Regions from separate parts of the Homo sapiens genome. Here region 2 is linked to region 1. The links come from fine-mapping of genetic effects on gene expression. A gene starts in region 1. The other region holds a variant in brackets. All regions are shown on one strand. Distances are between the middles of the regions. Region 1 holds the start of GFOD2 (Gfo/Idh/MocA-like oxidoreductase domain containing 2). Region 2 overlaps RANBP10 (RAN binding protein 10).

Region 1 (12,363 bases):
TTTCCTATGACCAGTCCCCAGCCTGAAACTACCCAGGAGCTGCCAGCCACCAGTTAACTCATTAGCATACAAAAAACCATCACTCAGGAGATTCCAGGGATTTGGTTGGTGCAAAAGCAACTGCGGTTTTTGCCATTACTTTGCGGCAAAATCTGCAATTGCTTTTGCACCAACCTATTGAAATTGCATGCCAGGAAACAGAGACAGAAGACCAAATATGTATTTCACAATATCACAGCCACTGACCGTATGAACTAGCTTTTCATTCTCTAGTGTTACACATTTATGACATTTTCATTTTGCTTCCTGTTATACAGGTTAAGAAATTATGGTCCAGAGGCCAGGCAGGGTCACTCCCAACTGTAATCCCAGCACTTTGGGAGGCTGAGGTGAGCCGATCACTGAGGCCAGGAGTTCAAGACCAGCCTGGCCAACATGACGAAACCCCATCTCTACTAAAAATACAAAAATTAGCCAGGCATGAAGGCGCACACCTGTAATCCCAGCTACTCGGGAGGCTGAGGCACAAGAATCGCTTGAACCCAGAAGTGGACATTGCAGTGAGCCGGGATTGTGCCACTACACTCCAGCCTGGGAGATAGAAACACTGTCTCAAAAAAAAAAAAAAAAAAAAATTACGATCCAGAAATTACACGATTTGCCTAAGGTTATCATCCTAAGTAAAATACAATTATGAAAGTAAATAATAAAGATTTTGAGGTTATAAAGTGATACAGTAAAATCTCAAAGCCAAGTAGAAGTGTTTTGGGTTCTATTTTGGGGTTATCTATTCTCATGAGAAATTGAGAGCTGACAATTTGAGAGTAGCACAGTTATCCCAGGCCAGAAAGGAAGACCACACTAAGTACTCAGTTCCCATTTTTCACAGTCTTCATTCCAAATCCTTGATTATAGAGGACTGATAGAAATCTTTACAGAAGCTCTTGGGAATGACTTAGAAAGGTGGCAGAGAGAGTGAGCTATGTTCCCACGAATTTCAGGACTATCCAGGGTCCCAAAGAGTATATACATTTTATCACTGGCTACCTTGAGAAATGACAGTACCTTGGACAAAAACACTACTTGCAATTCCTTTCTAAGAGCAGGAGCTAGCAAACAAGTGCTTAAGGACAGGGTTCAAGGGTACTAAGTAACATGGAAATATTCGATTCTTCCTTCTTAATGTTTAATCCATATTTTCTTTCTTTTTTTTTTTGAGACGTACTTTCGCTCTTGTTGCCCAGGCTAGAGTGCAATGGCACGATCTTGGCTTACTGCAACCTCTGCCTCCCGAGTTCAAGCAATTCTCCCGCCTCAGCCTCCCTAGTAGCTAGGATTACAGGGACCCGCCATCACACCCAGCTAATTTTTTGTATTTTTAGTACAGACGGGGTTTCACTATGTCGGCCAGGCTGGTCTCCAACTCCTGACCTCAGGCGATCCACCTGCCTCAGCCTCCCAGAGTGCTGGGATTACAGGCATGAGCCACCGCGCCTGGCTCTAATCCATATTTTCTAAGTGTTTATTCACATCACCATGAGAGAAAATTTTTTTTTGTCTTTGAAGACAAGGTACTTCAGTGAGCTCATTCCCAACCCAATGTCTAATTTATAAGGAGGTGTTAGAGTGTAGGGAATTCTTCCTGCTTTCATGTTTTTCTCAGTATCTCCTACCATTCTAACTTTCATGAACCCAAGCTTTTCAAGTGTCTTTCATTCTCACTTTTTAAAACACCTGCCATTTAAATTTTCAAGTAATAAGGACTTTTAGACTCCAAATTTCAGTTTGCTTTTAAGTTTGCTAATATAAATCTACTACTTTTGAATGCAAGAAAGATAATGTTCCATTACTATACTGTATATAAGTTCTCAAAAATAGCAAAATCTCCAATTCCATTCTTTCCTAGATGTACTCTAATTCCAATTGTGGATTTGTTCTAGAATTGGACCCCCTGTTATAGAGACCCCCATCTCTACAAAAAAAAAAAAAACTTGTTTTATTAGCTGTCTATGGTGGCATGCACCTGTGGTCCCAGCTACTCAGGAGGCTGAGGTGGGAGGATCACTTGAGCCCAGGAGTCAGAGGCTGCAGTGAGCTGTGATCACGCCACTGTACTCCAGGCTTGGTGACAGAGCAAGACCCTGTCTCAAAAATGAATAAACATTTAAAAATAAATATGCATGAGTGACTTTTCAGGCATCAGAAAGGCACTTTTCCTATTTCTAAGTTAGTGGTCTCTCTGATCCTGTGTTTTCTGAACACCGACCTCTGCATTTCAACTTCTAACATCAGATGACATTGCATCCCCATTCCATTTCTCCTCTTATGGGAAAACTAGAAAATCAGTTCAGTGAAAGTAGCTTCTATTAGCATTGCTGGTTTATCTGGTAGGGTTTCCTCATGGTTGGCCTGTCAAACACTGTTGATTACTTTATTACAGGCCAGATATGATAACTGCCCTCAGCTGCTCCAGAAAATGGCATAGAAGTTAAGTAATTATTTGTCAAAGGTTTCACTGTCATAGCAACCAGGACTTTTGAGAGTCCTCTGTAAGTCTACCTTTCTCTGAAAACAAGTGTTTTTCTGATTGGAGTTCAGAAAACTCACACAAATCCACAGGTCACACCACAGCCGTATTTAAGCAGTACCCTCTCCAAAAGCTCATTCAAAGTATTTGTGCCCACGTTCAAAACACCCTCCCACAGTCCATCCAGTTCCACAGGTGGCAACTGCTCCCTTCCATTTTACCTTGACTTGATTTTGGCCTACTTGTCTTACCTTCCTCTGGGTCAACGTGAAAGTAATGAAGGTTTCTGCACAGAACACAATGATTTTCATGAAGCCTTTCTGACAGAATTTGGTTAACAGTACTGATTTTCCCCAGAGGTTACATTTGCTTTTGATAATGCCCCATTATAACTCCTGAGGTATTTATACAAAATAACCCCACAGGTGCAAGAAAAGTTGGTAAAAAGCACAGTCACAATACCCATAGTTATGGTATGATGCTGAATTATGAAGCCAAGACAAAGTTTTCTTCTTCTTTTTTTGTTTTTTGAAACAGAGTTTAGCTCTTGTCCAGGCTGGAGTGCAATGGCGCGATCTCGACTCACTGCAAATTTTGCCTCCCAGGTTCAAGCGATTCTCCTGCCTCAGCCTCCCAAGTAGCTGGGATTACAGGCGTGCACCACCATGCCCCGATAATTTTGTATTTTTAGTAGAGACGGGGTTTCATTATGTTGGTGAGGCTGGTCTCAAACTCCTGACCTCAGGTGATCCACCCACCTTGGTCTCTCAAAGTGCTAGGATTACAGGCATGAGCTACTGCGCCCGGCCCAAAGCTTTCTTCTTTAAACTGATTTCACCTGTTAACATTATTATACTTCCAATGTATCTTCTTATAAGGGCAAGGGGAAAAACCTGCTGCAAAGTCAAATGTAAATAGAAAATTAGTTTTTATCAAGCTAGGGACAAACTGACTTTGATGATTAGAATCAGGGACCATCTTTTAAAAATCACATAGTTCTAATTTTTAAGTTTTGGGTCAGAGGAGGCTTTCTAAAAAATTGCTAGTTCTACTACCAATGTGTTCTAGTATTACTATAGAAATCAGATAGCAATTGCCCTAGCAAATAAAAATAATAATGAGGGCTGGGTGTGGTGGCTCACACCTGTTATCCCAGCACTTTGGGAGGCCAAGGCAGGCAGATCATCTGAGGTCAGGAGTTCAAGACCAGCCTGGCCAACATGGTGAAACCCCTTCTCTACTAAACATACAAAAATTAGCTGGGCGTGGTGGTACATGCCTGTAGTCCCAGCTACTCAGGAGGTTGAGGCCAGAGAATCGCTTGAACCTGGGAGGCGGAGATTGCAGTGAGCCGAGATCGCACCACTGCACTCCAGTCTGGGTGACAGAGTGAGACTCCGTCTCGATAGATAGATAGATAGATAGATAGAGAATTAGACCCAGACCAATGATTATTCCATGGCAAAGTGGGAAAACCAGGTGGTAAGAGATAACCTCTCACAACAGAATCTTTATCTGTGAAATAAGGATTCGACCAACAGAACCGTCTGTTGAAAATTTCCTCTCTTGGTCCAGGCAGGTTCTCTAAACTCCCAATCCCAAAGCAGTTAATTTTTTCACGTTTCCTGTAAAATGGATGGCCTTAAAACTCTTTTGTTCTCTAGTGTAGCTTTCCAGAAGGAAATAAGTTTCCTTATCAAGAATGAATCTAGCTTCCCCGACTCAAAAACAACCATCTTCTCTATATTGCTCCATATCACAATAAATTTAAGTGCCTTCCTTTTCTAAATTAAATGCTGTTCCCTTCAACTTAAGGGCCACACACTAAGGGCTATTCCTTTAGAGGCTTTTGGGCCCCACAGATCACAAAGGTGGTGCCCTGCCCTAGTTCTTTCTGGACATTTAAAAGGACATCCACTTTCTTGCCCTCAGGATAACATTATGGGAACAATGAACATAAATAAGACAGTTAAATAAGCTTCCCTGATGCCTATCCAATACAGCTTTCAACTCTTCTATCCTGCCTTGTTCTTTAGATCGTGCTGTAGTCTGGAGGGTAAACTCTTCACACAACCATTCCCAAGCCCTCATGTCCCTGTCCACTCTTCCTCCCTCACCTTTTAAGTGTGATAGGGCCTTGATGGGAAGACCTCACTTCACCTTTTGTCTCAAGTCCATCTGCTTCCTTCCAGAGCTACAAATACAAAGGTAGGCCAGGGCCATTGAGACGTGGCCATAGGGCACATGGGAGCTGGCAGAGCCACTCGCACCTTCTGGGGTGTCCCTTCTTCCACCTGTCAACTGAACACCCGTTTCTTAAAGATTTATCCCCAAAAGTCCCATCTCATTCTGAAAGGGGACGAACCAGCTACCCCACGAGCCCTTTGTCTGAGCTTCTACACCTCACACATCCTCATCCACAAAGCGTCCATCCTCACACAGTCAGGTGGTCCGCTCGGCACAGGGCGGGGGAGACTAGGTTTTTGCATCTGGTAAAAGGATGGGTTATGTCTCAGGTTCTTCCAGGATCCCAAATCCTATAATTCTACCACCAAGCCTGCGGGTCCTATTTCTGCGGTGGAAAGGGCGAATCCCAAGGCGACCCTCCACTCCACGCGCCTGCAGGCAGTTGGAACAAGCCCCCTCCAACCCCGGCTCTGCGGGTCCACGCCTCCAACCTCCGGCGCCGGGCCGCGGAGAAGGCCCTGTCGGCGCCCGCTCCCGGCCGCGCCATGCCCTCTTTCGCCCTCACCCGCCACCGGTGGCCGCCTCTCACCTGGCACGCTGGCATCGCCCACTCCGCGCTGCACTGGAAACCATGGGTCCGACGGGGTCTCGGGGGCCACCCATCCGCCTTAAGGAAGGCTGGCGGGGATGCGCGGGCCCGGGAGTCCAGGGCGCCGCCACCGGGAACGCGCCGCCTGGTTTCTAAGGAACTGGGGGCTCTGGAAAGGGAGGGGCGGGACGGCAGGAGGACTGCGCATGCTCCATAACGGGGATGGGCCTGCGCTGGGAGGGGCCGTAGCCGGGAGCTGCGCATGCTCGCTTTTTGGGGGCGGAGCTTAAGCAGCCTGGCTAGGAGGCTCAGGTTATTCATTTCCGGCGGCGGAGGCGGCAGTTTCCTAAGCTTGGCTTCTCTCCGGTCCGCTGACCGGCGTCAGGGACCAGGTTTTGGTAGCTGTGGGTAGCCTCAGTTGTCCTGGAATGAAAGACGGTTTCGTGTTGGACAAGGACATATCTGCAGAAGGCCAGTTCTCTCGAACTCGTCGGACTTCCTGGCTCCCTGACCCCCAGTGACTCGTTTTTCCGTTTTCTCAGGTGCCTGTCTGGGCTCCTCTTCCTCTGGATGTTTTTTGATTGTTCCTTAAATATCAGTGCTCTTCAAGACTGTAACCTCAGTCCCCTTGGCCTCTTTACTGAAGCCTATGCCCCACCAAATAGCAAACTATCCGCTAGAGTAAGGAAGCCGTTAGACCTTAGAATAAAACTGCCTGTGTAGGAAATGTGATTGGGGTTTGTATCTGCATGGGGAGCCCCCGTCCCTGCTTGTCTGACCCTCCTGCTGAGTATCAAGATCCCCACTCAGCTGGCATTAGGATGATCTCCCAGCCATCATTCCAGAGCAGCCTGTGGTGACAGAATATGTCAGCTGACCTAAGCGTGAGGCAGTTCCTACTGAGATATGCTAACTAGCAGCAGAGCTATCCCTGCTTTGAGCGGAGACAGGACTCCTACCACCTCTGTGAGGAGCATGGAAGGCTTCCAAAGTGATGAGAAGTTGTAACCCCTAAACCCCCCCTCTTCTGATGGGATTTTATCCTTTCTCTCCTGGATCCTCTAGAGCCAGGCAGAAGGAAGGCAGAGTCAAAATGTGCCTGTTTGATCTGTTTCTTAGTCATTGTTCGGAGTTCCACTCTTCTTGAGTAGGATTTCTCAACAGTGGCACTATTGACATTTTGGACCTGATAATTCTTTGTTGGGCAGGGGTGGGGGGAGCTGTCTGCATTGTAGGATGTTTGGCAGCATCCCTGGCTCTACCCAGTAGATGCCAGTAGCACCCCAAGCCCAGTTGTGACTACCAAAAATATCTCCAGACATTGCCAAGTGTCTCCCTGGGAGCAAAATCATTCCCAGTTGAGAACCACTAGTCTAGGGGGAAATGAGCCTACTCTGGCTTTACTTATATAGAACCAGGACTTTATGCTTAATCTAAAACCCATATTTTCCCCTTTATGCTACCTCTTCCCTAAGAGCATTCTATAGAGTAATAGTCCTGTAAGATTCTGCTGAGTGACACAGTCTGTAGTAACTTAAGTTTGGAAAGTGCAGGGTTAAGCAACACATTTTAACACAGGATTGAGCTTTTAATTAGCTGGTGGCGATCACTGTGAACATCCATAAGACAGTTTTCCTAATTTACTGGACCACCTCCCAATTCCAGTGACTTTTTTACTGGCAAACCTCCCCTAATTTACTGGCAAACCTCCCAATTCCAGTGACTTTTAGCCACTGCCTGCCCCCTTCTGTTCTGTGTTATTTTGTGGTACTATTATCCATCCCATCACCCCCAACCAAAGTCTGCATTTGCCTTGTCTCTTGCTTCTCCTATTTCCCTCACATTCAGTTATTCATCTTGTACCTCCAATTCTCTCCTAAATCTTTCTCAAACCTGCCCTCTTTGCAGCCTCCTACCTGGGTTCTTTTGCTCCAATTTGTCTCCAGTACCACCTTCAGGTGGACACCAGCATGATCTACCGTATCCCTCCTCTGCATAAAACCCTGGTGCCTCGGGGACAGGGCAGGCAGGAGTGGGCCAGTCACACCACTGGGCATCCTCATGGAGGAAGGATGCTCATGTGTACTGTGTGTATCCCTGTGTGCCAAACACTGCTGTATATCTGCCATAATCCTCTACCTCCACGGGGCAGAAGGATTTACCATGTTTTAAGGATGGGGAAACAGTCTCGGAGAAAGAGGTTAACTTTCCATGTTAACACAGTAAACGGTGCGAGGATTTTGAAACAAGCTCTTGCTCCTCAGGCAAGAGACAGGAAGCTAATTTCAATACCCGTCAGGCTGGGTGCCGTGGCTCACGCCTGTAATCCTAGTACTTTGGGAGGCCAAGGCAGGAGGATTGCTTGAGACCAGGAGTTCGAGACCAGCCTGGCCAACATGGTGAAACTTCTCTATAAAATATACAAAACTTAGCCAGGCATGGTGACACATACCTGTAGTTTTAGCAACTTGGGAGGCTGAGGTGGGAGGATCACTTGAGCCTGGGAGGTTGAGGTAGCAGTGAGCCATAATCATGCTACTGCACTCCAGCCTGGGAGAGAGAGCAAGACTTTGTCTCAAAAAAAAAAAAAAAAAAAAAAAACCCAAAAACAAACTCTCAAAAGAGGTACCCCCAGAAAACTTTCTGACTGTGCAGTATTTGAGGCGAGCATATTTGGAATTTTATTTTTTATTTTTTTAGGCAGGGCCTTGCTCTGTCATCCAGGCTGGAGTGCAGTGGCGCAATCATGGCTCACTGCAACCTCAACCACCCAGGCTCAAGCAATCCTCCAGCCTCAGCCTCCTGAGAAGCTGGAACCACAGGCAGACACCAACATGTCCAGCTAATTTTTTCTATTTTTTGTAGAGGCAGGGTCTATGTTGCCCAGATTGGCCTCGAATTCCTGGGGTCAAGCGATCCTCTTGCCTTGGCCTCCCAAAGTGCTGGGATTACAGGCGTGAGCCAATGCACCTGGCCCTGGAATGTTTTTGTTGTTGTTGTTGTTGTTTTTGAGATGGAGTTTCACTCGTCACCCAGGTTGGAGTGCAATGGTGTGATCTTGGCTCACTGAAATCTCTGCCTCCCAGGTTCAAGCGATTCTCCTGCCTCAGCCTCCCTAGTAGCTGGGATTACAGGCGCCCGCCACCACGCCTGGCTAATTTTTGTACTTTTAGTAGAGACGGGGTTTCACCATGTTGGCTAGGCTGGTCTCAAACTCCTGACCTCAGGTGATCTGCCTGCCTTGGCCTCCCAAAGTGCTGGGATTACAGGGTGAGCCACTGCACCTGGCTCTGAAATGTATTCTTAATACCTTATTTTTGTGGGGAAAAGTTCCTGTGGCCCACCTTTATTTAGTTGAATTTTTTTTTTTTTTTTTTTTGAGACAGGGTCTCACTCTGTCACCCAGACCGGAGTGCAGTGGTATGATCTCAACTCACTGCAGCCTTGACCTCCTGGGCTCGAGTGATCCTCCCACCTCAGCCTCCTGAATAGCTGGGACCACAGGAATGCGCCCCCATGCCCAGCTAATTTTTGTATTTTTTGTAGAGATGGGGTTTTGCCATGTTGCCCAGGCTGTTCTCGAACTCCTGAGCTCAAGGGATCCACCTGCCTCAGCCTCCCAACGTGCTGAGATTATAGGCGTGAGCCACTGTGCCCAGGCTCTTTAGTTGAATTTGCTACTTTTTCCTTGTATAAGAAGAAAGCCGTTTCAAGAGAGAACTGAGGTTTAAGTACCTGTCCTCTTTGGGGTCTTACAAATACACAGTTTCAAAGGTCCTTGAAGAAGGCACCTGAGGGCCTGGGCACTTGAGAGGCTGGGAAGGGCCCAAATCCTTTAGGACAGGATGTGTCACAGAAGGGGTGCCAACCTCAGTAAGACTCAAAACAGAGACCAGACACACATGACTGCTCATGGATGTGTATTTTAATAAAAATAATTCTGTCAAAATACAACAGAGTTTTTTTTTTGTCTCTCAAGTACAATTTTAATAAGATGTTTTGTGTTAGAGTTCTCTCTCCATCCTCCCACACCCACAAGTTTCATGCTAATGCCAAGTATCAACTCTTGAGGACAAAGGCAAAACCAGTGTGCACAATGTGGAGGATGTCTGTTGCAGCTGTAGTTACTAATGCAGGAAAACCCAATGCAAAGAGGAAAATGCCTGAGGCAGCCAGAGGCCACAATCTGGCCACAGGTCTGGGTGCATGAGACTGGCAGTCTAGTAGGGCTCCGCTGCCTGGCTGCCACATGGGTGCATACCTGAGTTGTGAGCAACCAAAGGAACTTTCAGCTCTGACAATTCTCTGCCTCATCTTCTTTGTGCTTGCTTAAGGAGTGGGAAGGCGCTAGGTGGCCAGGCAGTCCCCACTTCTGTCTCGTGGTGTCCATTTTGATGGCCTGCACCCAGCCACAGACCCATGAGGATGGGGATGGGGGTTCTGGCTTGCTATGAGTGCCAGTTTTTGCTCTGGAAGGAGTGACCATTTGGTGCCGCAAGGGGAAAGTGAGTAGGGAAGGCTGCTCCCCAGGGCCGGACAAACCAAGAAAGCCAGGTCTTCCTCCTGCCTCCATGGGTCAGGTCCAGCCCTTCACCAGGGCTCCCCCAGGTGCCTTTCCCACTCTAGGCTCCTGGAAGCAGGCTGGTAGGACTGGATGTGCATAAGGGGCACCTCTGGCTGGCAGGCAGGCAGGCCTGGACTCTCAGCAAGAGAGTGGGCTCAAGCAGCTTGGTTTTGGCCCTCTCCACAGCTTGTGGGGCAAAGGCTTATGTCCCAAAGGTGAGCTGCCCAACTGGGACAGAGAGCCCCTCTGGAGAGGAACAGAGTAAACAACTTGGACTCAGCTGAAACAGTGAGATAAGGCACAGAAAATGGGGAGGTGGCCATGGGTACCAAGTGCGAGCCAGGCAGACACCCAACCCCATGCAGCACACAGCTGTCCCGAGCCCTCCTGGGCCCTCTCAGCCACTCCACAACCTAAGCTCAGGCACCCGTCCTCATCCCTGACACACCCCTGAAGGTAGCAGCTTCTCAGATACTGCTGGAGGGCACATCAGCCTGACCCCTCATGGGGTTTATCTGCCATTCGGTTTCAGGACTAAATAGTGTTGCCCAACCCACAGGGATAAGGGATAGTCCCGGCTCTGCTACTAATTTGCTATGTGACTTTAGCCAAGTCACTTAATCTCCTGGGCCTGTTTCCTTATTTGTAGCAAGAGAGGAATGGGGGAGATGTTCACTGAACCCCATTCCAGCTGCAAAAGCCTGTGGTTTTAATCCAATCCTGCTAGGCTATGATCATTTAAACAGCCTGATGTCTCCAACTTCTGGGTTTGGGAGCTAGGTAGCCCCAGGCTGTCACAAGAGATGAATTTCCTTTACAGACAGGACGCCTCCTAACAGGCCATGGTCTATGGGTCTGCCAGCCCCAAGGACCAAGAAAAAGCAGCAGCTATAGGATCATTTCCCAAGGCAGAATTCTGACAGCACAGGGCCCAGGGCCCTGGCCCCATCACCAGCAGTTGGTCCAATTCAAACATTTTTCTTGTTGCCCAGCTGTGGGCCCAGTGAGGCCTGGTGAGCAATGGGTATCTCAGGCCACACCAACCATTCCCATGTCCACCAATATGGAGCAGGAGCTTGCAAAGCCCAGATTCAGGCAGGGACTGAAAGTTCAACTTCCGGCCTTGCCATGGCTGACCCTACTCTTTGCATGGGCGGCTTGTGCACTCCCCTCACAATGTGAAGCACATATGGAAATTCCAGCCGTCCTGGTGCTCCTCTGTGTAGACTTCCTCCCTTTCCTCCTCCAGGGCAGCCAGTCCTCTCCACAGGTGGGCCACCCCAAGTCCTGGCAACCATCTCAGTCTTTCCTTTCCTGATTCCCCAATGGTAGCGGGACCACTTTTACTCTGCCAGCTGTAAGGATCTATCTGAAACAGCTGGTGGGACATGTGTAAAGCTGATAGAGTCCCATTCTCTGGCCAGCAAATACTCCCAATAGTCTTTCCTAAGAGTGGCTAGGGCCCAGCTGCAGGGAGCTGTCTGGCACAGTGGCAGTGAAGTCTGGCCTAGGGGACCAAGGATTCCATCCACTCCCTGGAGTAGCAGCCCAAGAACCTGCCTCCACAAGGTACTGGTTTCTCAACAGAAAGCATCCATTCTCTCAGAGCTGTGCAGAGATGGTGAAGATCTAGGCAGGAAGAAAGCAGCCCCTGTACTCAAGGGCCTCTGTCCTGGGAATGGAGTCTTCTTTCCAGCAGCCTGACACACAGAAGCTCTCAGGACGAAGGCAGGTAGTTTCCAGGCAATCAATTTAGAGTAAATGTATTATTTGGCCATCTTAACAACAAGGGAAGATAGGGTATTGAAAAGGGAGGAAAGGGGAGCAAGGCAGGCAGTGGGAGGTGGGGTAGAGTGGTAGATAGTGTGCTGGCCAAGGACCCTCTACCTCTGCTGTGTGGCCCTGGGCCAAGTTATCACTTCTCTGGACCCTTGGCCCTGTAGTTCTCTGCTCTGTCCAGCTCTCAGGGGCCTAGGGATCTACAGTTCTTGGGATGCTATAAACCAATGTAACCATGCCCACTAAGTGGCCCACCAAACCCTATTTGGGTTTCCTAGGCTGCAGCTCGGCCTGTGACTCAAAAAAGGGGGAGCAAAAAATAAATCACTTGGCTGAGGTGACAGAGATTCTTCTTTTTTAATGAGTTGGACTCAAAGAAAACATGGTGCCTGGACAGCCTCACCCAAGAGGTGCTGGACCACTAATGCTACGATAAATACTGTCTTTTTTTTTAATATATATATTTTTATATATATATATATAATCTCATTTGTTTTTTACTTATGAAAATAATAAGCTATCACCAACTTGGATAGGCTTCATCACTAAATTAGCAGAAACCAGCTCAGCACAAACTCTCCAGAGATAAATACTGGTGGCTCAGTCAGGAGAAAAAAATTTAAAAACCCCAACCCCTCCTCAAAACAAAACCCCCCTTTCAAAATAGAAGGCGCTACATGAGAGTAACCAGCCAATACTGTGTTACAGGCCGCTGCA
Region 2 (12,363 bases), 63 kb after region 1:
AAGAAAAAGAAAAAAAAAAAGAACTAATAAGTTACTCTATTTCTCACTTTTCAGTTGTATTGCTACACACTTATAATGAACAATCAAAAAAAAATTGAGAAAACAATTCCATTTCCAATAGCATCAAAAGAATAAAATACTTAAGCTGGGCACGGTGGCTCACGCCTGTAATCCTAGCACTTTAGGAGGCTGAGGCAGGTGGATCACGAGGTCAGGAGTTCAAGACCAGCCTGACCAACATGGTGAAAACCCATCTCTACTAAAAATACAAAAATTAGCCGGGCGTGGTGGTGCATGCCTGTAATCCCAGCTATTCGGGAGGCTGAGGCAGGAGAATTGCAGGAACCCGGGAGGTGGAAGTTGCAGTGAGCCAATACCGCAGCATTGCACTCTAGCCTGGGGTACAAGAGCGAAACTCCGTCCCCCACCCAAAAAAAAGAAAAAAAATACTTAAAAGTAAATAAAGTAGGCTGGGCGCGGTGGCTCACGCCTATAATCCCAGCACTTTGGGAGGCTGAGGCGGGCAGATCACAAGGTCAGGAGATTGAGACCATCCTGACTAACATGGTAAAACCCCGTCTCTACTAAAAATACAAAAATTTAGCCGGGCATGGTGGCGGGGGCCTGTAGTCCCAGCTACGGGGGAGGCTGAGGCAGGAGAATGGCGTGAACCCAGGAGGCTGAGCTTGCAGTGAGCCGAGATCGCGCCACTGCACTCCAGCCTGGGCGACAAAGCGAGACTCCATCTCAAAACAAAACGAAAAAAAAAGTAAAAAAACTTAACCAAGGAGGCTAAAGACACTAAAAACTATAAAATGTTGATGAAGGAAATTACAGACACAAATAAATGGAAAGACATCCTCTGTTCACTGATTAGAAGACTCACTATTGTTAAGATGTCAATACTACCCAAAGTGATATACAGATTCAAGGCCATCCCTATCAAAATCCCAATGATGTTTTCCACAGAAATAGAAAAATCCATATGGAATCTCAAGGGACAGAAACAGTCAAAACAATCTTAAAAAGAACAAAGTTGGAGGGCTTACACTTTCTGATTTCAAAACTTACTACAAAGCTACAATAATAAATCAGTTTAAGACTCGCATAAAGACAGACCTACAGTCCAAGGAATAGAATAGAGATCCCAGAAATAAACCCTCACATGTATAGTCAACTGATTTCAACAAGGATGCTAAGACCATTAGATGGGGAAATGACAGTTTTTTCAACAAATAACGCTGGGACATCTGGATAATCACAAACAAAAGAACAAAGTTTGGCCAGGTGCGGTGGCTCACGCCTGTAATCCCAGCACTTCAGGAGGCCAAAGTGGGTGGATCACCTGAGGTCGGGAGTTCAAGACCAGCCTGACCTATGTGGAGAAACCCCGTCGCTACTAAAAATACAAAACTAGCTGGGCATAGTGGCGCATGCCTGTAATCACAGCTACTTGAGAGGCTGAAGCAGGAGAATCGCTTGAACCCAGGAGGCGGAGGTTGCAGTAAGCCAAGATCGCGCCACTGCACTCCAGCCCAGGCACCAAGAGCGAAACTCTGTCTAAAATAAAAAAAAAAAGAAGTTTTTTGCTTATATTACACCATATATAAAAATCAACTCAAAATGGATCAAAGACCTAATCATAAGAGCTAAAACTTCAACTCTCAGGAAAAGACATAGCAAGCTTCATGACATTGGATTTGGCAATAATTTCTTGGACAAAAGCACAGGCAACAAGAGAAAACATAGATAAAGTAAACTTCATCAAACTTTAAAACTTTTAGCTAGGAATGGTGATGTGCACCTGTAGTTCCAGCAATGTGGGAGGCTGAGGCAGGAGGATCGCTTGAGCCCAGGAGTTTGGGACTAGCCTGGGCGACACAGCAAAACCCCATCTCTAAAAAATGAGAGTGGCAAAGGCCTTGAGATGTTTCCCTAAAGAAGGTGTACATGTGGCCAGCAAGCACCTGAAAAGATGCTCACCATCACTATCGTTACGGAAATGCAAATCAAAACTACAGTGAGGGCAGGCACAGTGGCTCATGCCTATAATCCTAGCACTTTGGGAGGCCGAGGCAGATGGACTGCTTGAGCTCAGGAGTTCAAGACCAGCCTGAGCAACATGGCAAAACCCCATCTCTACAAAAAATATAAAAATCAGCTGGGCGTGGTGGTGCTTTTCTGTAGTCTCAGCTACTTGAGAGGCTGAGATGGGAGCACAGCTTGAGGCCCAGGAAGTTGAGGCTGCAGTGCCTCCCGCCATTGCACTCCAGAGCCTGGGTGACAAAGTGAGACACTGTCTCAAAATAAAAATAAAATAAAAATAGTCTGGGCGCAGTGGCTCATGCCTGTAATCCCAGCACTTTGGGAGGCCAAGGAGGGCTGATTGTTTGAGACCAGGAGTTCGAGATCAGCCTGGGCAAAATGGTGAAACCCTGTTTCCACCAAAAATACAAAAATTAACCAGACATGGTAGTGCACACCTGTAGTCCCAGCTACTCAGGAGGCTGAGGTGGGAGGATGGCTTGAGCCTGGGGTGGGTGGAGGTTGCAGTGAGCCGAGATGGCACTACTGCACTCCAGCCTGGGTGACAGAGCCAGACCTTGTCTCAAAGAAAAAAAAAAAAAAACACAGCGAGATACCACTTTGTACCCTTTGAGCTGCCAAGAATGAGACAAAAATAAATAAGGAAAGGGCATAACAAAAACCTCAAACTCATTCTCCTGTACACATACTGCAGTATCTTTGCATCTATGGAACAGGAAGAATCCCCATAGGAGGCCACTGACACTACCCTTCCTCTATTGATCTCTGCAGGCACCTGAATATGGCTGAGTTATTAGGAGCTCTTGGGTCCTTGCTAACGTTGAGTAATTCAGTAAAAACAGGTGTGATAAATTTCTTTTCATAGAGGTTCTTCCAGTCATTCATGTCATCAACAAAAATGCCCTGTACCCAGTATGATGCTGGGGACATAAGGGTGGGGGCCTGGGCTCAATCCTTGCCCTCCAACAGTTCTAATGTCAAGTCAGGGCAAGCCAGAGAGTCAAGGTGTGCTGACTCAAAATGGGGAATTCCCTCAGGAAGTGAAGGCTGAGCCAAGGCCTGGTAAAGTAAATGACAGGAGAAAGAGGATCATGGTCCACTCAAAAACAGCAGAATGTGGGCCAGGCACGGTGGCTCACGCCAGTAATCCCAGCACTTTGGGAGGCCAAGGCAGGTGGATCACGAGGTCAAGAGATCCAGACTATCCTGGCCAACATAGTGAAACCCCATCTCTACTAAAAATAAAAAAATTAGCCGGGCGTGGTGGCGGGTGCCTGTAGTCCCAGCTACTCGTGAGGCTGAGGCAGGACAATCACTTGAACCCGGGAGGCGGAGAATGCAGTGAGCCGAGATTGCGCCATTGCACTCCAGCCTGGCAACAAAGCTAGACTCCGTCTCAAAAAACAAACAAACAAACAAAAAAACACAGCAGAATGTGAAAAGGCATAGAGGCAAGAAAGCAGCCACGTGGTTGGGGAACTAAGAGAAGTTTAGTATGACTGGGTTACAGTCTGGGCAGACCTAGAAAGACAGACAGCTGGATCTGGAAATGGGCTGTGCATGCACAGCCTGCATGCTAGCTTAAGGAGTCTGAACTTCATGAGAGGTAAATGGGAAGCCACAGAAGGGGCTAAGCTGGGGATGGTGGCTTCAGCCTATAATCCCAGCTACTTGGGAGGCCAAGGCGGGAAGATCATTGGAAGCCAGGAGTGCAAGACCAGCCTAGACAACATAACAAGACCACCTCTGTCTCTAAAAAAAAGAAAGGGTACAGCTGATCAAACAGCTGATATTTGAAAAATGGATTGAAGAACCAAAACTGGACACTTCCAGAGTCATTCCCATGGAAGATGACAAGGGTGGGACAGGAGCAGTGGGATGATGTGGAGACAGGCAAGTGCTCTTTAGAACACAGTTAATTTATTGGGTGGGGGAGGAGCTAGAGAAGCCCAAGACACTGCCCAGCACAACCAGGCACCAAGGAAAGGTCAATTCTCTGAGACCCACTTGGAAATACTGGAGCCAAAGTGCTCAGTCAGAGTTAGCAGCAGCCATTCTCCAGCTGTGCTCTCTAGCCCTGGCATTGATGCCACGCACACACATCTCAGAACACAGCTCCAAGGAGCAAACACAGTTTACAATCCTAGACTCCAATCTCACCTCTGCCACTGAGTTCAACACATGCCCACTGGCATGTCCCATGTGCTCTCAGAGCCTGCTTTATCAGCTATTACCTTGAGGCTGGAGAGCCCCCAAAGCAGCCATTCAACAGGATCAGACAAACGAGCACCTGAGCGCAGTGCCGGAGGCTGAAGGTGGATGATGGGACAACCCCACTTTGTCCATTCATTCATACACTGGAGGATCTTCCAGCATCAGGATCTGGTAAGGAAATGAGGCCATTCTGGAAGGCCTGGATCTCAGGACATCTAAAACAAACACCTGTTTACTTGAGATTACCAAGGAGAAAGGAGGTGAATATTTGCTTCCTTGTTGGTAATGGGCCAGGCTATGCTAGAAACACTCACAGATACAACCTGCCTGGGTCAGCCTGGGAGGGAGGGCGGCAACAAGGGCTTTTACTCCCGGAGCAGGTGACTAGAATAGATAGAGCAGCTTAGCTCCCAACACTTCTCTACCAGGGCCTTCTTTTCTAACTGCAGGATATATTTCAGGAGCTGGGGAGAGGGAATTATTTACGCTATGACACAGGTGAAAGTAAGGTAAAGCCATCTGATTTACTCCTTTCTTCTATATGGCAGCAAAGTGGAGAAGAAATATCATGCCAGAGAGGTGAGACAGGAAGCACAGAGAGGCAACAGACAAGCTCTTCGTGGCAGTGAGGCCATGAGTAGGCCTGTAACTTCTCAGTTCCTACCGTTGCCTGCCAAAACCACAATGCAAGGTGGAGATACGAGAACAGCTATTCTGCCCTATCTAGCTCAAGAGAGAAGAGGGCAGCAAATAGGCACTGCTTGGGACAAGTGGAGTCGAGATCCACCAGAACACAAGATAGAGAAGAAGCAACCGCACCTGGAAGCAGGCAGCAAAGGCCCACAGGTGTCCACACTCACAAATCCACCCAGAAGCTCCCACTATCCACTGCAACTGGCAGGGGGTCCATGCTGCCACCCGAGCAAGGGGGTCCACCCAGCCCTGCCACCCGAGCTCAAGTCTGCTGAAACCCTGCAGTCATGTGGAGAGCTGCAAGCACAGTCCAGTCCTCTTGGATTCCTTTTTCTCTTTGCTTTTCCAGATTTTCTACAACTAACACAAATTACTTTTTACAATTTTTAAATTTTAATTTCTATTTTTAGTTTTTATTTGAGACAGGGTCTCACTCTGTCTCCCAAGCTGGAGTGCAATGGTGAGACCTTGCTCACTGCAACCTCTGCCTCCCAGGCTCAAGCCATCCTCCCACATCAGCCCCCTGAATAGCTGGGACCATAGGTGAGTGCCACCACACCTGGGTAGTTTAGAGATGGGGATTTGCCCTGTTGCCTAGGCTAGTCTTGAACCCCTGAGCTCAAGCGATCAGCCTGCCTTGGCCTCCCAAAATGCTTGGATTACAAGTGTGAGCCACCGTACCCAGCCAATTATTTTATTTTATATTTTATTTTATTTTATTATTTTTTTAGAGACGAAGTCTTGCTCTGTCACCCAGGCTGGAGTGCAGTGCCGCGATCTTGGCTCACTGCAACCTCTGCCTCCCAGGTTCAGGCAATTCTCCTGCATCAACTTCCCAAGTAGCTGGGACTACAAGGCGTGCGCTACCACACCCAGCTAATTTTTGTATTTTTCAGTAGAGATGGGGTTTCACTATATGTTGGCCAGGCTGGTCAACTCCTGACCTCATGTAATCCGCCCAGCTCGGCTTCCCAAAGTGCTGGGATTACAGGCATAAGCCACCGTGCTGGGCCAAAAATCACTTTTAAGAGCCATCTCTTAAAAGCCACTTTTAAGAGCCATCTCTTAAAAGCCACTTTTAAGAGCCATCTCTTAAAAGCCACTTTTAAGAGCCATCTCTTAAAAGCCACTTTTAAGAGCCATCTCTTAAAAGCCACTTTTAAGAGTAATGGCTACATACTGCAGAGGTTTTTGGCTCTCACTCATCAGACTCTCTCTGGATCACCCCAGGACATTTCAGTGATGGGGGACACATTAGGGAACGTGGCTTTCACAGTCAGCTCCTTGGTCCACCTAGCACCCCGAGTCTTGACAGAAGGGCAGAGGCTGCATCACAACAGTACAGCTTCAGAAACAGTCAAAATCCTTGCTGAGCAGAGGCCCTGAGGTTCCGGCTCACATGGCACCTAGTATGTCCCAAGCTGGGCACAGAGCACACACGCAGGAGACCCTGCTGCAGTGAGACAGATTTGGCACAGCTCCAACTGACTAGAGTTTCTTCTGCGACCCAGGCAGGCCTGGTGGTGGACAGAGGACAGAACTTTAGAAACCAGGGCCACCTGACTCTCACACCTCCCAGATATGTACAAGGCCACGGGAAGGAGACGACCCCTTTACTGTACTCTACCACCCAGTCCTGATAACAAGTTTGAGAACCCTGCACAGAGAACCCCTTTGGCAACAAGTCTGACTTCCCCTCCTGCCTCCTGAAGAGTTCTGAGGTGACAAGAACACTTCACAGCAGGGCTCCAAACACAACACCCTTGACTCTAAAAGGCTGGTCTCAGACACTCCAGCCTAATTCAAGACTATGGGTCTTAGATTTCAACCCACATATCAGGTTCCTTATTAGAGGAGGAAAGGTTAAACCAAAGGCTCCTAAGCTCCTTCCCAGCTTTGACCTAGACTTCAATTCTTCACAGAAAAATGTCTGTGCACATTGTAAATGTGCAGTGCCCAGATGCAAACCCAAGATGAGGAAGACCCTGGAACAGCAATCAAAAAGCCACTAAGAAGACATCAGGCTGAGTGCGGTGGCTCACGCCTATAATCCCAGCACTTTGGGAGGCCAAGGCAGGTGGATCACAAGGTCAGGAGTTCAAGACCAGCCTAGCCAAGATGGTAAAACCCCATCTCTACTAAAAATACAAAAAAATTAGCCGGGCGTGCTGACGGGTGTCTATAATCCCAGCTACTCGGGAGACTGAGGCAGAGAAGTGTTTGAACCTGGAAGGTGGAGGTTGCAGTGAGCCAAGATGGCGCCACTGCACTCCAGCCTGAGTGACAGAGAGAGAGACTCCGTCTCAAAAAAAAAAAAAAAAAAAAGACATCAAAGGAAAAGAAAGTTATAGAGCAATATAGATGAATATAGATGCAAAAATCCTTAATAGAATAGTAGCAGACCAAATCCAACAGTGTATTAAAAGGATTATATACCACAACCTAATGGGATTTATCCCAGAAAGGCAAGGATGGTTCAACATAAGAAAATCAGGTGGAGGCCGGGAGAGGTGGCTCACGCTTGTTAATTCCAGTATTTTGGGAGCCCAAGGCGGGTGGATCATTTGAGGTCAGGAGTTTGAAACCAGCCTGACCAACATGGTGAAACCCT[A/G]TCTCTACTAAAAATACAAAATTAGGCCAGGCCTGGTGGCTCACGCCTGTAATCCCAGCACTTTGGGAGGCCAAGGCGGGAGGATCACCTGAGGTTGGGAGTTTGAGACCAGCCTGACCAACATGGAGAAACCCCGTCTCTACTAAAAATACAAAATTAGCCGGGCGTGGTGGCCCATGCCTCTAATCCCAGCTACTCTGGAGGCTGAGGCAGGAGAATCATTTGGACCTGGGAGGTGAAGGTTGCGGTGAGCCAAGATCGAGTCATTGCGCTCCAGCCTGGGCCACAAGAGTGAAACTCCATCCCAAAAAAAAAAAAATTAACCTAGCTTGGTGGTGTATGCCTGTAATCCCGGCTACTCGGGAGGCTGAGGCAGGAAAATCGCTTGAACCCGGGAGGCGGAGGTTGCAGTAAGCCGAGATTGAGCCATTGCACTCCAGCCTGGGTGACAAGAGCGAAACTCCATCTAAAAAAAAAAAAGAAAAAGAAAAGAAAAGAAAATGATCTAAATATAAGAGGTAAGGCCCTGGGCCAAAAATCTGGCACTGGCCCAGTAGCACTTAAAAAAAAAAAAATAGGCTGGGTGCGGTGGCTCACGCCTGTAATCCCAGCACTTTGGGAGGCCGAGGCGGGCAGATCACCTGAGGTCAGAAGTTTGAGACCAACCTGGCCAACATGGTGAAACCCCATCTCTACTAAAAATACAAAAAAAGTAGCCAGGCGTGGTGGCAGGTGCCTATAATCCTAGCTACTCGGGAGGCTGAGGCAGGAGAATCACTGGAACCCTGGAAGAGGAGGTTGCAGTGAGCCGAGATCGTGCCACTGCATTCCATCCTGGGTGACAGATCGAGAGTCGGTCTCAAAAATAAATAAATAAATAAAAAAGAAAGAAAGAAAGAAGGGAGGGAGGGAAGGAAGGGAAAAACTAAAATAAAAAGGAAAGAGCCAAAACCATAAAATTCTTAGAAGAAAGCGTAAGGGTAAATCTTCATGACCTTTGATTTCACAATGGATTTAGAGATGATACAAAAAGGATGAACAAAAAGAAAAATACATGAATTGGACTTAATTAATATTAAAACTTCTGTGCATCAAAAGACATCATCGGGGCTCATGCCTATAATCCCAGCACTTTGAGAGGCTGAGGCAGGCGGACCACTTGAGGTCAGGTGTTCGAGACCAGCCTGGTCGACATGGCAAAACCCCGTCTCCACTAAAAATACAAAAATTAGCCAGGTATGGTGGTCCATGCCTGTAATTCCAGCTACTCAGGAGGCTGAGGCAGGAGAATCACTTGAACCCGGGAGGCAAAGGTTGCAGTGAGCTGAGATCACACCACTGCACTCCTGCCTAGGAAACAGAGTGAGTGAGACTCCATCTCAAAAAAAAAAAAAAAGCCAGGCACAGTGGCTCACGCCTATAATCCCAACACTTTGGGAAGCCAAGGTGGTGGATCACAAGGTCAGGAGATCGAGACCATCCTGGCTAAAACGGTGAAACCCCGTCTCTACTAAAAATACAAAAAATTAGCCGAGCATGGTGGCAGGCGCCTGTAGTCCCAGCTACTCGGGAGGCTGAGGCAGGAGAATGGCGTTAACTTGGGAGGCGGAGCTTGCAGTGAGCGGAGATCAGAGCGAGACTCCATCTCAAAAAAAATAATAATAATTAAAAAAAAAAAAAGACATCATCAAGAGGCCAGGCATGGTAGCTCACATCTGTAATACCAGTGCTTTGGGAGGCTGTGGAGGCAGGAGGACTGCTTGAGCCCAGGAGTTCAAGACCAGCCTAGGCAACATGGCAAGACCCCATCTCTACAAAAAATTTAAAATTTAGCCAGTCATGGTGGCATGCACCTGTAGTCCCAGCTACTTGGGATGCTGAGGTGGAAGGATCACTTGAGCCCAGGAGGTTAAGTCTGCAGTGAGCCAAGATTGCACCACTGCACTCCAGCCTGTGCGACAGAGCAAAAATCCATCTGAAAAAAATAAAAATAAAAATAAAAAATAAGAGAGTGAAAAGACAATCAATGGAATAGGAAAAAGTATTTGCAAATCATAGATCTGATAAGGGTTTAATATCAAAAATAAAGAATTCCTATAACTCAACAACAGAAAGACAAACAACCCAAACAGGCAAAGGACTTGAACAGACATTTCTCCAAAGAATCTATACAGATAGCCACATACAATAAGCACATAACAAGATCCTCAACATCACTAGTCATTAGGAAATGCAAATCAAAACCACAATGAGTTACCACTTCATACCTAGAATAGCTATAATTTAAAAGTTCCAGGTCAAGTGCAGTGGCTCACGCCTGAAATTTCAGCACTTTGGGAGGCCGAGGCGGGCAGATCAGTTAAGGTCAGGAGTTCGAGGACAGCCTGGCCAACTTGGTGAAACCTGTCTCTACTAAAAATACAAAAATCAGCCAGGCGTAGTGGTACACACCTGTTATTCCAGCTACTCAGGAGGCTGAGACATGAGAATCACTTGAACCAGGGAGGTGGTGGTTGAAGTGAGCCCAGATCAAGCCATTGCACTCCAGCCTGGGGGATAGAGCTAGACTCCATCTCAAAAACAACAACGAAAAAATAGAATAAATAGGCCAGGCATGGTGGCTCACACCTGTAATTCCAGCACTTTGGGAGGCCAAGGCAGGCAGATTACTTGAGGTCAGGAGTTTGAGACCAACCTGGCCAACATGGTGAAACCCTGTCTCTACTAAAAATACAAAAATTAGCCAGGCGTGGTGGCACATGCCTGTGATCTCAGCTACTCAGGAGGCTGAGGTGGGAGAATCACTTGAACCCGGGAGGCAAAAGTTCCAATGAGCTGAGATAGCGCCAGTGCACTCTAGCCTGGGTGACAGAGTGAGACTCTATCTCAATCAATCAATCAATCAATCAATCAAAGTTCCAGCTACTTGAGAGGCTGAAGCAAGAGGATTGCTTGAGCTCAGGAGTTCAAGACCAGACTAGGCAAGACAGCAAGGCTTTAAAAAATAAAAAAATGAAGAAAGAAATAAAATAAATGTTGGCAAGGATGTAAAGAAATTGGAGCCTTCACACACTGCTGGTGGGGATGTAAAATGGTGCAGCCACTATGGAAAAGTTCGGTAGTTACCCAAAAAAGTTAAATAAAAATTATCATATGACCCAGCAATACCATTCTTAGGTGAACACCCAAAAGAACTGAAAATAGGAACTCAAACACTATGTACACCAATGTTTGCTGCAGCATTATTCACAATAACCAAAAGGTGAAAGCAACCTAAGCGTCCATCAACAGAAGAATGGATAAACAAAATGTGATGTATATATAAGTACAACAGAATATTATTCAGCCATAAAAAGGAATGAAGTTCTAGGCTGGGTATGGTGGCACATGCCTGTAATCCCAGCACGTTGGGAGGCTGAGGCAAGAGGATCACTTGAGGCCCGGTGTCAAGACCAGCCTGGGTAACATAGCGAGATTCTGTCTCTAGAAAAAAAAAAATTTTTTTTTGAGATGGAGTCTCGCCTGTTGCCCAGGTTGGAGTGCAGTGGTGCGATCTTGGCTCACTGCAACCTCCACCTCCTGGGCTCAAGTGATTCTCCAGCTTCAGCCTCCCGAGTAGCTGTGACTACAGGCACATGCCAACACACTCAGCTAATTTTTTTATTTTTAGTAGAGACTGGGTTTCACCATGTTGTCCAGGATGGTCTTGATCTCTTGACCTCATGATCCACCCGCCTCAGCCTCCCAAAGTGCTGGGATTACAGGCGTGAGCCTGTAGTCCTGAGCTCAAGCAATCCTCTTGCTTCAGCCTCTCAAGTAGCTGGAACTTTGATTGACTGACTGATTGATTGATTGAGATAGAGTCTCACTCTGTCAGCCTGTAGAGCCACGCCTGGCCTCTACAAATTTTTTTTTCTTTTGAGACAGAGTCTTGCTCTGTCGCCCAGGCTGGAGTGCAGTGGTGCGATCTCGGCTCAATGCAAGCTCCGCCTCCCAGGTTCACACCATTCTCCTGCCTCAGCCTCTCGAGTAGCTGGGACTATAGGCGCCCGCCACCATGCCCGGCTAATTTTTTGTTGTATTTTTTTAGTAGAGAGGGGGTTTCACCATGTTAGCCAGGATGGTCTCGATCTCCTGACCTCGTGATCCACCCGCCTCGGCCTCCCAAAGTGCTGGGATTACAGCGTGAGCCAGCGCGCCCAGCCCTTTTTTTTGTATTTTTAGTAAAGACGGTGTTTCAACATATAACCAGGATGGTCTTGATCTCCTGACCTCGTGATCTGCCTGCCTTGGCCTCCCAAAGTGCTGGGATTACAGGCATGAGCCACCGCTCCTGCCCCCAAAATTTTTTTTTAAATTAGTCAGGCAGGACGCGCACAGTGGCTCACACCTATAATTCCAGCACTTTGGGAGGCCGAGACGGGCAGATCTCTTGAGGTCAGGAGTTCGAGACCAGCCTGGCCAACATGGTGAACTCCATCTCTACTGAAAATACAAAAATTAGCCAGGTGTGGTGGCACACGCCTATAGTCCCAGCTACTTGGGAGGCTGAGGCAGGGGAATAGCTTGAACCGAGGTGGAGGCTGCAGTGAGCCAAGATCACACCACTGCACTCCAGCCTGGGCAACAGAGTGAGACTCCGTCTCAAAAGAGGAAAAAAAAAAAATTATCCAGGCAGGCCGGGCACAGTGGCTCACGCCTATAATCCCAGCACTTTGGGAGGCTGAGGCGGGCAGATTACTTGAGGTCAAGAATTCAAGACCAGCCTGGCCAATATGGTGAAATGCCATCTCTACTAA

The links.
Region 2: its variant is fine-mapped to the expression of GFOD2 in sun-exposed skin (GTEx, PIP 0.97). The same link has a PIP of 0.9 or more in unexposed skin.

The regions. Positions count from the first base shown.
Region 1 is chr16:67,713,860-67,726,222 of GRCh38, forward strand. It overlaps GFOD2 (Gfo/Idh/MocA-like oxidoreductase domain containing 2), which reads right to left and starts at 5,457. Exons shown (of 3, transcript NM_030819.4): 1 at 5,304-5,457. RANBP10 (RAN binding protein 10) reads right to left here. Exons shown (of 14, transcript NM_020850.3): 14 at 9,211-12,363. RefSeq lists an enhancer at 4,775-4,854 and silencers at 5,215-5,264, 5,325-5,374.
Region 2 is chr16:67,776,787-67,789,149 of GRCh38, forward strand. All of the region lies in intron 2 of RANBP10 (RAN binding protein 10), which reads right to left. Among named protein-coding and RNA genes, the nearest start is that of RANBP10, 24 kb to the right of the region's middle. RefSeq lists an enhancer at 4,674-4,823. The variant A/G (reference allele first, on the strand shown) is at 7,565.